Linked DNA regions of Homo sapiens: region 1 is linked to region 2. Evidence: fine-mapped expression QTL. Tissue or cell type: aorta. Region 2 holds a variant in brackets; the other region holds the start of a gene. All regions are shown on one strand. Distances are from middle to middle. Region 1 holds the start of AP3B2 (adaptor related protein complex 3 subunit beta 2). Region 2 overlaps HDGFL3 (HDGF like 3).

Region 1 (5,527 bases), 430 kb before region 2:
GAAACTAAAATACGTCTTGGTCTGGGTAGATACTTTCACTGGATGGGTAGAGGCCTTTCCCACAGGGTCTGAGAAGGCCACTGCGGTCATTTCTTCCCTTCTGTCAGACATAATTCCTCAGTTTGGCCTTCCCGCCTCTATATAGTCCAATAACAGACCAGCCTTTACTGGTCAAATCACCCAAGCAGTTTCTCAGGCTCCTGGTATTCAGTGAAACCTTCATACCCCTTACCATCCTCAATCTTCAGAAAAGGTAGAACGGACTAATGGTCTTTTAAAAACACACCTCACCAAGCTCAGCCACCAACTTAAAAAGGACTGACAATACTTTTACCACTTGCCCTTCTCAGAATTTGGGCCTGTCCTCGGAATGCTGCAGGGTACAGCCCATTCAAGCTCCTGTATAGATGCTCCTTTTTATTAGGCCCCAGTCTCATTCCAGACACCAGACCAACTTGGACTGTGCCCCAGAAAACTTGTCATCCCTACTATCTTCTGACTAGTCATACTCCTATTCACCATACTCAACTACTCATACATGCCCTGCTCTTGTTTACACTGCCGGTTTACACTGTTTCTCCAAACCATTACAGCTGATATCTCCTGGTGCTATCCCCAAACTGCCAGTCTTAACTCCCTCTTAAAGTAAATAAATAATCTTTGCTGGCAGGGCTATGCTGAACCTCCTTGGGCACTCTCTAATTGGATGTCCTGGGTCCTCCCAATTCTTAGTCCTTTAATACCTGTTTTTCTCCTTCTCTTATTCCATTTAGTTTTTCAATTCATACAAAACCGTATCCAGGCCATCACCAATAATCCTATACAACAAATGTTTCTTCTAACAACCCCACAATATCATCCCTTACCACAGAATCTGCCTTCAGCTTAATCTCTCCCACTCTAGGTTCCCACGCCACCCCAATCCCGCTCGAAGCAGCCCTTCAAGGCTATGGAGAAGCAGTATCTCTCCATACCACCCCCCGCCAAAATGTTTGCTGCCCCAACACTTCAACACTATTTTATGTTATTTTTCTTATTAATAAAAGAAGACAGGAATGTCAGGCCTCTGAGCCCAAGCTAAGCCATGATATCCCCTGTGACCTGCACGTATACATCCAGATGGCCTGAAGTAACTGAAGAGTGAAAATGGCCTGTGCCTGCCTTAACTGATGACATTATCTTGTGAAATTCCTTCTCCTGGCTCATCCTGGCTCAAAAGCTCCCCCACTGAGCACCTTGTGTCCCCCCACCGCCAGAGAACAACCCCCTTTGACTGTAATTTTCCACTACCTACCCAAATCCTGTAAAACGGTCCCACCCCATTTCCCTTCGCTGACTCTTTTTTCGGACTCAGCTGGCCTGCACCCAAGTGATTAAAAAGCTTTATTGTTCAAAGCCTGTTTGGTGGTCTCTTCACATGGACGTGCGTGAAAATCCTCATCTTCTCCCCCTGTCCCTCTAAACCCCCACCCAATATCCAATTAATCATCAGGTCTGAGGCTTCCACCTCTTCCACAGCCTCAAATCTTCTGCCTCTCCCCTGGTCTAGGCCACAATCATGCCAGGCCTGTGAACTTCAAGACCCACCTCCCTTGTCTCTTGTTCAATCTGGCCCACCTCCAATCTCTTCTCCACAATGCAGCAGCCTGACGTCCTTCTAAAATATAAATCTGATTATGTCGCCTGCTTAGAATCCTTCAGGAGTCCTCCCCACCCTCTTTTCTGGTCAGTCCAGTGGCTCACACAGATTGTGGCCTGGCTCTCAACCTTCCTGAAAGCCCTTTCCTCTGCCTGGAACATACCTCACGCTCCTGTCTTCCTTCTCTCCGGCGCCAGAGACTAGGTCCTCTCCCTGCTCCCACTGCCCCCATTACACTCGACTGTCCCTGACTGCTTCTTCATCTGTGCTCCCCTCTAGAGCATCGTGAGGACAAGAAGGGTCTCATGTTCACAGTTGTATTCCGTGACTAGTTCAGGACTCGACACAGTTGGCTTTTCATAAATGCTTGTTGCAGAATTTACGAATAAACAAATGAAGAAACAAACGAACGAATCAAAGGTGGGGGAGGGTGTGAAGGTGGAGCTGAACTACAGGGGCAATGCCAGGAGCAGGGATGTGAGGGTCAGATGGAGATGGGGACCAGAGGGAGGGGAAATGAATTTGCAGCAGGGCCAAGCTGGGAGGCTGTGCAAGTACATCCAGGGCCCGCCTTCCTGAAGAGGCCCCAGGCTCAAGCTCAAGTTCGCTGACTCAGACCCCTCCCCCACATTTTTGGGAAGCCAACCCGCCTAGCACGAAAAAGGAAGGGAACCCCTAACGCAACGCCGCAAACCGGAGAAACACCTGGAACCGGAGGGTTTCTCCTCTCGAAACTGAGCTGGCCCATCCCCCGCCAGCCCCTATCTGCCCCCCTCCGCGTCCTAGGCCGGCCCCTGGAGCCGGGGTGCCAGCGCTGCCCGCGCTGGGCCGGGGCTCCAGGCCGCAGGAGGGGGCCGGGCGGGCTTCCGGTCGGCGCGGCCGGGGCGGGGCCGGCGCTGGGGCCGGGCGCTGTCCATGGTGCCCGCGCGCCTCGCCCGGTCCCCGGCCCCAACCCTCCCGCGAGCTTCCTGGCGGGCTCCCTCACCGCTTGTAGTCGGAGGAGAAGATGCCGCCGCTCGCGGGGTCGTGGCCGTACTCGGGCTCCCCGGGGCCAGCGGAGCCGCCCTTGTCTTCGCTGTAGGCGGGGGCGGCCGACATGGGGCGGCCAGGGAGACTTCGCCGAGGAGGAGGTTGCGGGGCCGGAGGCCGGCTGGAGCGGAGGAAGGGAAGGCGGGCCGGTCCGGTCCGGGCTGGCGAAGGCGGCGGCGCGGCAGGGGTTCAGCAGAGGCTGCAGTGTGCAGCGGCGGAGGCTGCGCGCGGATTTCTCAATCAGGGCCGCGCGCTGAGGTCTTAAAGGCACCGGCGCCAGCCGAGCGGAGGGCGTGTCCGCGAGGAGGCGACAGGGGCGGTGCGTCAGGGCCTGGCCCCGCCCATCCCTAGGAAATGCCCTCTTCAGGGCGTCTTCTGCCCTTTAAAGCGACTTGGCTCGTCTCCAGATCTAAAGGTGGGCGAGTCTGCTGGACGGACGCTGGGACCGTCTTGCAGGGGATGTGGAATAGCTGCCCCCACCCCCGACCACCTGGCCTCGGCGGGACGGGCCTCTGGGGCTCCGCTCTCCCCAGACGCACGCGCGGATGCTCACCCACGCCGTGGAGGGAAAGCGGGAACTGGAAAGAAGGCTGTGCCCGCAGGCTGGGGGTTCTAGAGCGGGAAGGGGTCACCGCACCCGAGGACCGGCCTCAGATACCTAAGGACGCTCCCTTTCCCGCCCCACCTTTCCTACAAAATCTGGCTTGGCAGCAGGAAGCCGAGGAGCTTCCTGGAGGTGGCGGAATTTAAGGAATTAAGGTCAGGGAGCTCCGAGGAGCCCTTGGGGGCTTAGAGAGATGGGAAACAGGATACAGAGGACGGTGAACATCTAATTAAGCTTTGGAAAGTAGTTTAATGAATCTTTCTGAAGCCTCCACGTCCACCCAGGAGGGCCAAGGTCATGCTTAATCCGGGGACACGTCCACGTCCATTGACACCTGAAAAGGAAGAGAAGGGTCTGGTGTGACCACCAGGGCTCCTGAGTCATGTGAGCCCTCCAGTTCAGCTCCCGAGCCCGAGTGACCCCTAGGCCCAAGGAAGGAAGGCTTGGATCCGATGGAAAGTAGTGAATTGGGCTGGGGGAAGAGGTAGGATCCAGTTGGGCATCAGTTGAGGTGGCTGGAGTCTTTTAGCTGGGCATGGGGACTGGAGGAGTTCCTAAGGCCTGAGTCTTGGTCTGTAACTAGCATCCCGAAGTCTCCATGGGCAGAATTGGCGGGCCTACCTGGGAAGGAGTGGGGCCCAGAAAGGTGGAGCTTGGCTCAGTAGAAAAGTTCTATTGGGGGTAATTCTACTGGGGTAAGGTTCTATTGGGGTAATGAGAAGGTTCTGTTGGGATAACCTAGACAAGTGGGTGGGTCCGCTTGGTTCCGGTGGCTTTGTGCCTGCCAGAGAAAAGTGGATCTTGAATTTGGAGAAAACTGGCCTGGGTGGGGAGTGGGAAGAGAAGGGCCTGGATTTTGCAGTTGCGCGTTTATAAGGCGCTTTGGCTAGTCTGCTCAGGAGGTGGGATGGGTCCTGTGCAGGTAGCTGGGCCACGCTCACCGACCTGCTGGAGCTCCCGTCTATTTGCCGGGGGTCCAGGCTGGGACCTGGGACGAGCAGACACAGTGCAAAGTGCACACAGTTGCTGCGCATGGAGTGATAGGATGGTGGGTCCGCGTCCGTCGCTTCGCTCACTCTGCGCAGCACGCGCCAGCAGGAGCGCAGCAGCGGGCGCTGCCCCTGTTTGGATACGATGCCTTTCCAGGAGCCCAGAAACTTCCCAGGAGCCCACAGCCTCCTGAGTTCTTGCCTGCGGGGATCGCCAGAGGGGTGCGGATCAGAGCCAGGCTTAGGTCCTATGCCCTGTGATCCCGCACCCCCATTTCCTGAGACCTCAGGGACCCTGAGTGCCCAAACCCCATTTTCAGAGAAACGTACCCCCAGCCTGGGACTTCAGTCTTTATCCCCGAGTAGCCAGCTCACTGGTGGGGCGTGGCTTGGCTGGGCAGCCTCTCCGCAGACTTGGGCCTGTGTTTCTGCTGGAGGCACTCACCCTCAAAGTGGATGATCTCTCCATGGCCACAGTATATGCCAACGTGGGCCCCGCACCAGCGTCAGGTGGGGGGAATCAGCCTGAACAGGAAGACGTCTCCTGGCTCAGGCTCCCTGCCCTCCAACTACACAGCCTCGAAGTGTTGACCCAGGAAAGCCTCAGAGAGGAAGAACTTAATGGTGCTGACTGCCCCAGTCAGGGCCTGCATGGAGAAAGGGACCTGCCTTCCTGGCGTTTACACAGGCCTGGGATAGGGAGGAGGTGGGTCCTTCCAATGACCATAGGTCGGATGGTCTGCCCAGGGCTCAGGGAGACCTGTCTTGGGCTTGGGCCCAAGGCAGAATGTCTTCACTGCCACACACTTGCCTCCTTGTGCTTAAGGGACTCCAGAGGTCCAGATATCACAGATACATCCTGCCTCGAGCCCCTACTGAGAACCCTTCAGTTCCAGCAAATGGTGCCTCCTCCCCATCCAACTGTCTTCTCATCTCAAAGTCCAGCCATTCCATTCTCTCCTCCTCCCCCCTGCGCTAGGATCCCCTTCCCCAACCAGCTCCCATCTTGCCACTGCTCCTGAAGGCAACACCAGGGACTGGGTGGGTGTCAGCTGGTACCTGAGTTGAGCAGAAGACCTGAAAAAATCGGGAAACCTGGATGAGATTTGGACCTAGGACAAGCATCTCCTCCCAAGTCTGTGTGGAGAAGGACCTCTCCAGAAACCTCTGTTGAGCAGCTGCTCATTTGATCCTTAATACAATCACAAGATAGGAACAATGTCCCCATTTTCAGGATAAGGAAACAGGTTTACAGAGGCTATGTAT
Region 2 (5,000 bases):
AACAATAATGTACACATAATAATGGTTTAAGGATGAATATTAACTATTCTAATTGTAGTTCCAAAAGAAAACAGTTTATTTTAAAAGTCTACATTTAAAAGTCAATGCTTTGTCTGGTTTCCCATAGGGCTGTTGCTGATTCCAGCTTTAAAATGTAAAGTATCCACCTTGAGTGCTTAGCTCAAAATTGTATTGGCACTGGGAAAAAAATAAATCATTGCCTTTATTTTGGAGTAACACAAAAAGACTCACTAACTTCACATATAGAAACTTAGTTTGTGTACATAACAATATGAATTTTGAGAAGTATAAGCTGTCAACTAGCTATTTCTAATACGGAATAGATATTTTACAATATGGTTAAACTTTACACATGGCCTCAAAACTGAAGGACAATTTTAATTTCGTCTTCAATATACCAACGTTATGTATTTAGGAATTAATTCCTGGGTTCTGTCACAGAGAGGAAATTCCATTCTTAAGCATTATGTTGAGTGGTCATCTAAAAAATGTTAATTTATATTTAACTGAGTGTTTGATGATGGTGGGGTCAAGGCAGGAAAACGATGATCATAACTGCCTTGATAAAAGGATCCTAGACATGTATAAGTCTGCGCAAAAATCTTGATAATCCTTAGTGGTTAAGGGCAACTTCATGCAACCAAATAACATGAAATTAAATCAGTAACTTTTAAAAAAGGCTAAAATGTCTTTTCCCCCCGAAACACAACAGAGAGGAATATGAATAATGTACATACAAACTGGGGTTCTGTCAATGACAACAAGGACTATGTGTTGGTTCATATCAAATCCAAGAATATTAGACAACCAAACATATAACCTTCTTGTGGTTTCTCTTAATATGCAGCATTCATTATGGTAGTTAGGTCTGTAAAAAAAAAAAAAAGAAAGAAAACAAGCCTTTAGATGATTTAGGATACTAACAATGAGAGCTATCCACACCTAGATAGTACATAATTGGGTTTTCTGAAATTTTAATATGCACTGCAGCATTAACAATACTTACTGAGCAAGAGCAGCTTCTGTGGCTTTGCTTTAGACCTGTCAGTGCAAAAAGTTAAAGGAAATCCTAGGGTATTTTTAGTGTCCCATAGAAAAAAATTATAAACCTTGTCTACTGTCTGTTAGGACAGAGTGCAGCAGTGCACATTCTACAATTCTAGGACTATGTTTATTGCTGGAATACATCATCAGTGGAGAAATTGATATAATCTATCTTTGTGAGGACATTCTTCAGAAAGAAAGGTAAGCTGTGTAAAATTTAAAAAGCACTTAGAGTGTGCACCAATTAATCTTCAGAATATTTATAACTTAATTACTTGTGACACATAGCTCAAACAAATGTAGAAGTTAATCATGATGTACAAAGTCTCTGACTTCTTGCTTTTAAAAAAAACATAAAGAATAAGAGGAAGCCTAGATTTCTTTTAAAATTTAGATGGCATCCGTGTGACAAACAGAAAATAAAACATTTGTTTCATAAAAGAATTATGTTTCTATTTGGGTCCCACTTTAAATTGTGTCTGGTTCTATTTCCCCAAAAGGATGCTATTTTTTCCCCCTCATCATTAACCCAAATATATTAAACCCCCTAGTAATACCCTCATGGGATGAATGAAAGAGGGAACTCAGCCCTCAAATATTTTTTCTGAAAACAGCCTGCTTCCACTCTTAATTTCACTAAATGAATGAACATGTTTGTAAGCACATGTGCACACTGATGGGTATGTTCTCATTCAGACAGCCCAACATGTATACTAAATGGTATATATTATAATAAACGATTCCAGGACCTTCAAAGGAGAGAGAGTTACCAAAACTTCCATCCCCCTAAGATGGCAGAAATATACTTTTTATCCTTCTGTCCCTATTAAAATGAGGAAGTAAATCTTTAAAAAAAAAGTTTGAAATTTGTGAACTTAAAAAA[T/C]GGAGTGCCTGGTGACTCCTAATTATTTCTTAACAAAAACACCAGTTATAAGATTATACTCACAGATACTTTGGAGGATCTTCCTCCCTTGTGAAGGAGGAAGACACCCATTAGAACAATGAAAAATTGTTAGTCAACCAAAGAAAGTTTTTTTTTTTTTTTTTTGAGACAGAGTCTCGCTCTGTCACCTAGGCTGGAGTACAGTGGCGTGATGTGAGCTCACTGCAACCTCCACCTCCCCGGTTCAAGTGATTCTCCTGCCTCAGCCTCCTGAGTAGCTGGGATTACAGGTGTGTGCTACCATGCCCGGCTAATTTTTGTATTTTTAGTAGAGATGGGATTTCACCACGTTGGTCAGGCTGGTCTCAAACTCCTGACCTTGTGATCTGCCTGGCTCGGCGGCCTCCCAAAGTGCTGGGATTACAGGCGTGAGCCACCGTGCCTGGCCGAAACCTTCTTTAACAATGTTTTCTTATTATTACTGTGAAAGGCAATAAATTCTATGTTTATCTTGGTAGAATAATCACAGTAAAAACTACTCAATCCACATCAAAGAATATTTTTGGAACAGGTGGTCCCATGGCAGCCTCAGAGTAGTATTAATACCCCAAACAAAGTGAAGGGAGCACCAAGAATGTGACTATAGTTTTAAGGACATGCTTTTTGTGGTCTTTAAACAAGGTGCTGTCAAATGGGTGCTTTGTAAAAGCAAATTACAAAATCTGAGATTAAAAAATTCTCATACCATAATCACTTTGCATCTATGTATTGAAAACTGCATCTTGCTAATTCATCATGGTATATATTCTGGACATGGTACTCTGACTGTCTCCTAGATCTGAAGTCTCCTCTGAGTAAGTAGCCACAAGTGGTTCCTTATGCACTGGTTGCCATGCACCCCTATATTAGATAATGGCTGAAGAATCCAATCGGATTCTCTCTGGAGGTATCTAAATGTGAGGCACACTGAGAGGCTATAGGGTGGTAGCAAAACTGAAGGATACCCAGAACACTGTAAGCAGAAGCTATGAAACAACAGAAGCCGTAAGGATCTTTTCAAGGAGTACCATTTTGATATGAAGGAATGATAATATTCAATATGGCTATGCAGACTGGGCAATTTGGCACGTTATAACAAATAAGTAACTTATTACTTGCAGAAAAACAACTGTTTTTTGCCAATGATAAAATTTGAGTGTTCAGTGAAAACTAGAATTTCAAATCCTCCATGACTGACAGTTTTCCAATATTTAAAGACTTTTTTTTTAGAGACAGGGTCTTGCTCTTGTGCCCATGCTAAGTGTAGCGGTGTGATCACAGCTCACTGCAGCCTTGAACTCCTGGCCTCAAGCTATCCTCCTGCCTCAGCCTATCAAAGTGCTGGGGTTACAGGTGTGAGCCACCAAACTTGGCCCCAATACTTAAAGACTTTTCTGATGAGATAGGTAGTGATATTAAAAATGTGATTAAAAACATTTTGTACTGAAATGAGTGAATATTTGGAAGACCCAAGTAATTCAGAAAACCTATATTTTCTAACTGGGGGAAAGCTATTCAGAGCGCTAGACAAACAGGCATATGAAGAAAAGCTCAGTATCGCTGATCATTAGAGAAATGCAAATCAAAACTGCAGTGACATACCATTTCACACAACTCAATGGCTATTACTAAAAAGTCAAAAAATAACAGATGCTGGCAAGGTTGCAGAGAAAAGGGAACGCTTATATGCTGTTGGTGGGAGTGTAAATTAGTTCAACCATTGTGGAAATCAGTAGGGCAATTCCTCAAAGAGCTAAAAATAGAACTACCATTCAACCCAGCAATCCCATTACTGCTTATATACCCAAAGTAATATAAATCATTCTACCATAAAGACACATGCATGAGAATGTTCACTGCAGCACTCGCTATATACAATAGTAAAGAAATGGAATCAACCTAAATGCCCATCAATGACAGATTGGATAAAGAAAATGTGGTACATATATACCATGGAATACTATGCAGCCATTAAAAAGAGTGAGAGCATGTCTTTTGTGGGAACATGCATAGAGCTAGAGGCCATTATCCTTAACAAACTAACACAGGAACAGAAAACCAGATACCGCGTGTTCTTGCTTATAAGTGGAAGCTAAATAATGAGAACTCATGGACACAAAGAGGGGAACAATGGACACTAGGGCCTACTGGAGGGTAAAGGAGAGGAGGAAGAGGATCAGAAAAAGTAACTATTGGATACTAGGCTTAGAACCCAGGGTAACAACAAACACCTGTGACATGAGTTAACCTTTAATAATAAATCTGCACATGTACTCCCTGAAGTTTAAAAAAAAAGCAAGACGATTAAGATACTCATATCACCATTTTTCAATTAAATATCTGTATAATACCAGATTTTCTTCATATACCTTCAACCACAATTACATATTACAATAAAGAGAATGCAGAAATAGATATGAGGATCTAGTTGTCTTCTATCAAATCAGACATTAAAAAGATTTGCAAAAATGTAAAAATGTCTTTCTGCAAACTTTTCTGTGAAATGTTATTTTCATAAAAATGCTATTTAAGTAATGGATTTATTATATTAAATGAATTAAGTATTTTTAAAATTTGTTTTTATTTCTAATTAAATAAATATCATTAACGATCACATATATAAACAAAGCTCTTTGGGGCCCTTAATAACTTTTTTTTTTGAGACGGAGTCTTGCTCTGTCACCCAGGCTGGAGTACAGTGGCACAATCTCAGCTCACTGCAATCTCCGCCTCCCAGGTTTAATCAATTCTGCCTCAGCTTCCTGAGTAGCTGGGATTACGGGCACATGCCACCACGCCCAGCTAATTTTGTATTTTTTGTAGAGATGGGGTTTCACCATGTTGGCCAGGCTGGTGTTGAACTCCTGACCTCAGGTGACCCACCCACCTTGGCCTCCCAAAGTGTTGAGATTACAGGCCCCTTAAAGGGGGCCAGGTGCAGTGACTCACGCCTGTAATCGAAGCACTTTGGGAGGTTGAGGCGGGCGAATCACTTGAGGTCTGGAGTTCGAGA

What was found. PIP is the estimated chance that this variant, and not a neighbour inherited with it, causes the effect.
Region 1: it holds the start of AP3B2, and the variant in region 2 is the best candidate, but not a certain one, in a credible set for the expression of AP3B2 in aorta (GTEx, PIP 0.53).

Annotation. Positions count from the first base shown.
Region 1 is chr15:82,706,970-82,712,496 of GRCh38, forward strand. It overlaps AP3B2 (adaptor related protein complex 3 subunit beta 2), which reads right to left and starts at 2,906. Exons shown (of 27, transcript NM_001278512.2): 1 at 2,625-2,906. The coding sequence starts at 2,737. It also overlaps the pseudogene LOC338963. RefSeq lists silencers at 2,430-2,689, 2,910-2,959.
Region 2 is chr15:83,138,387-83,143,386 of GRCh38, forward strand. HDGFL3 (HDGF like 3) reads right to left here. Exons shown (of 6, transcript NM_016073.4): 6 at 1-889. The coding sequence ends at 884. Among named protein-coding and RNA genes, the nearest start is that of TM6SF1, 33 kb to the left of the region's middle. The variant T/C (reference allele first, on the strand shown) is at 1,949.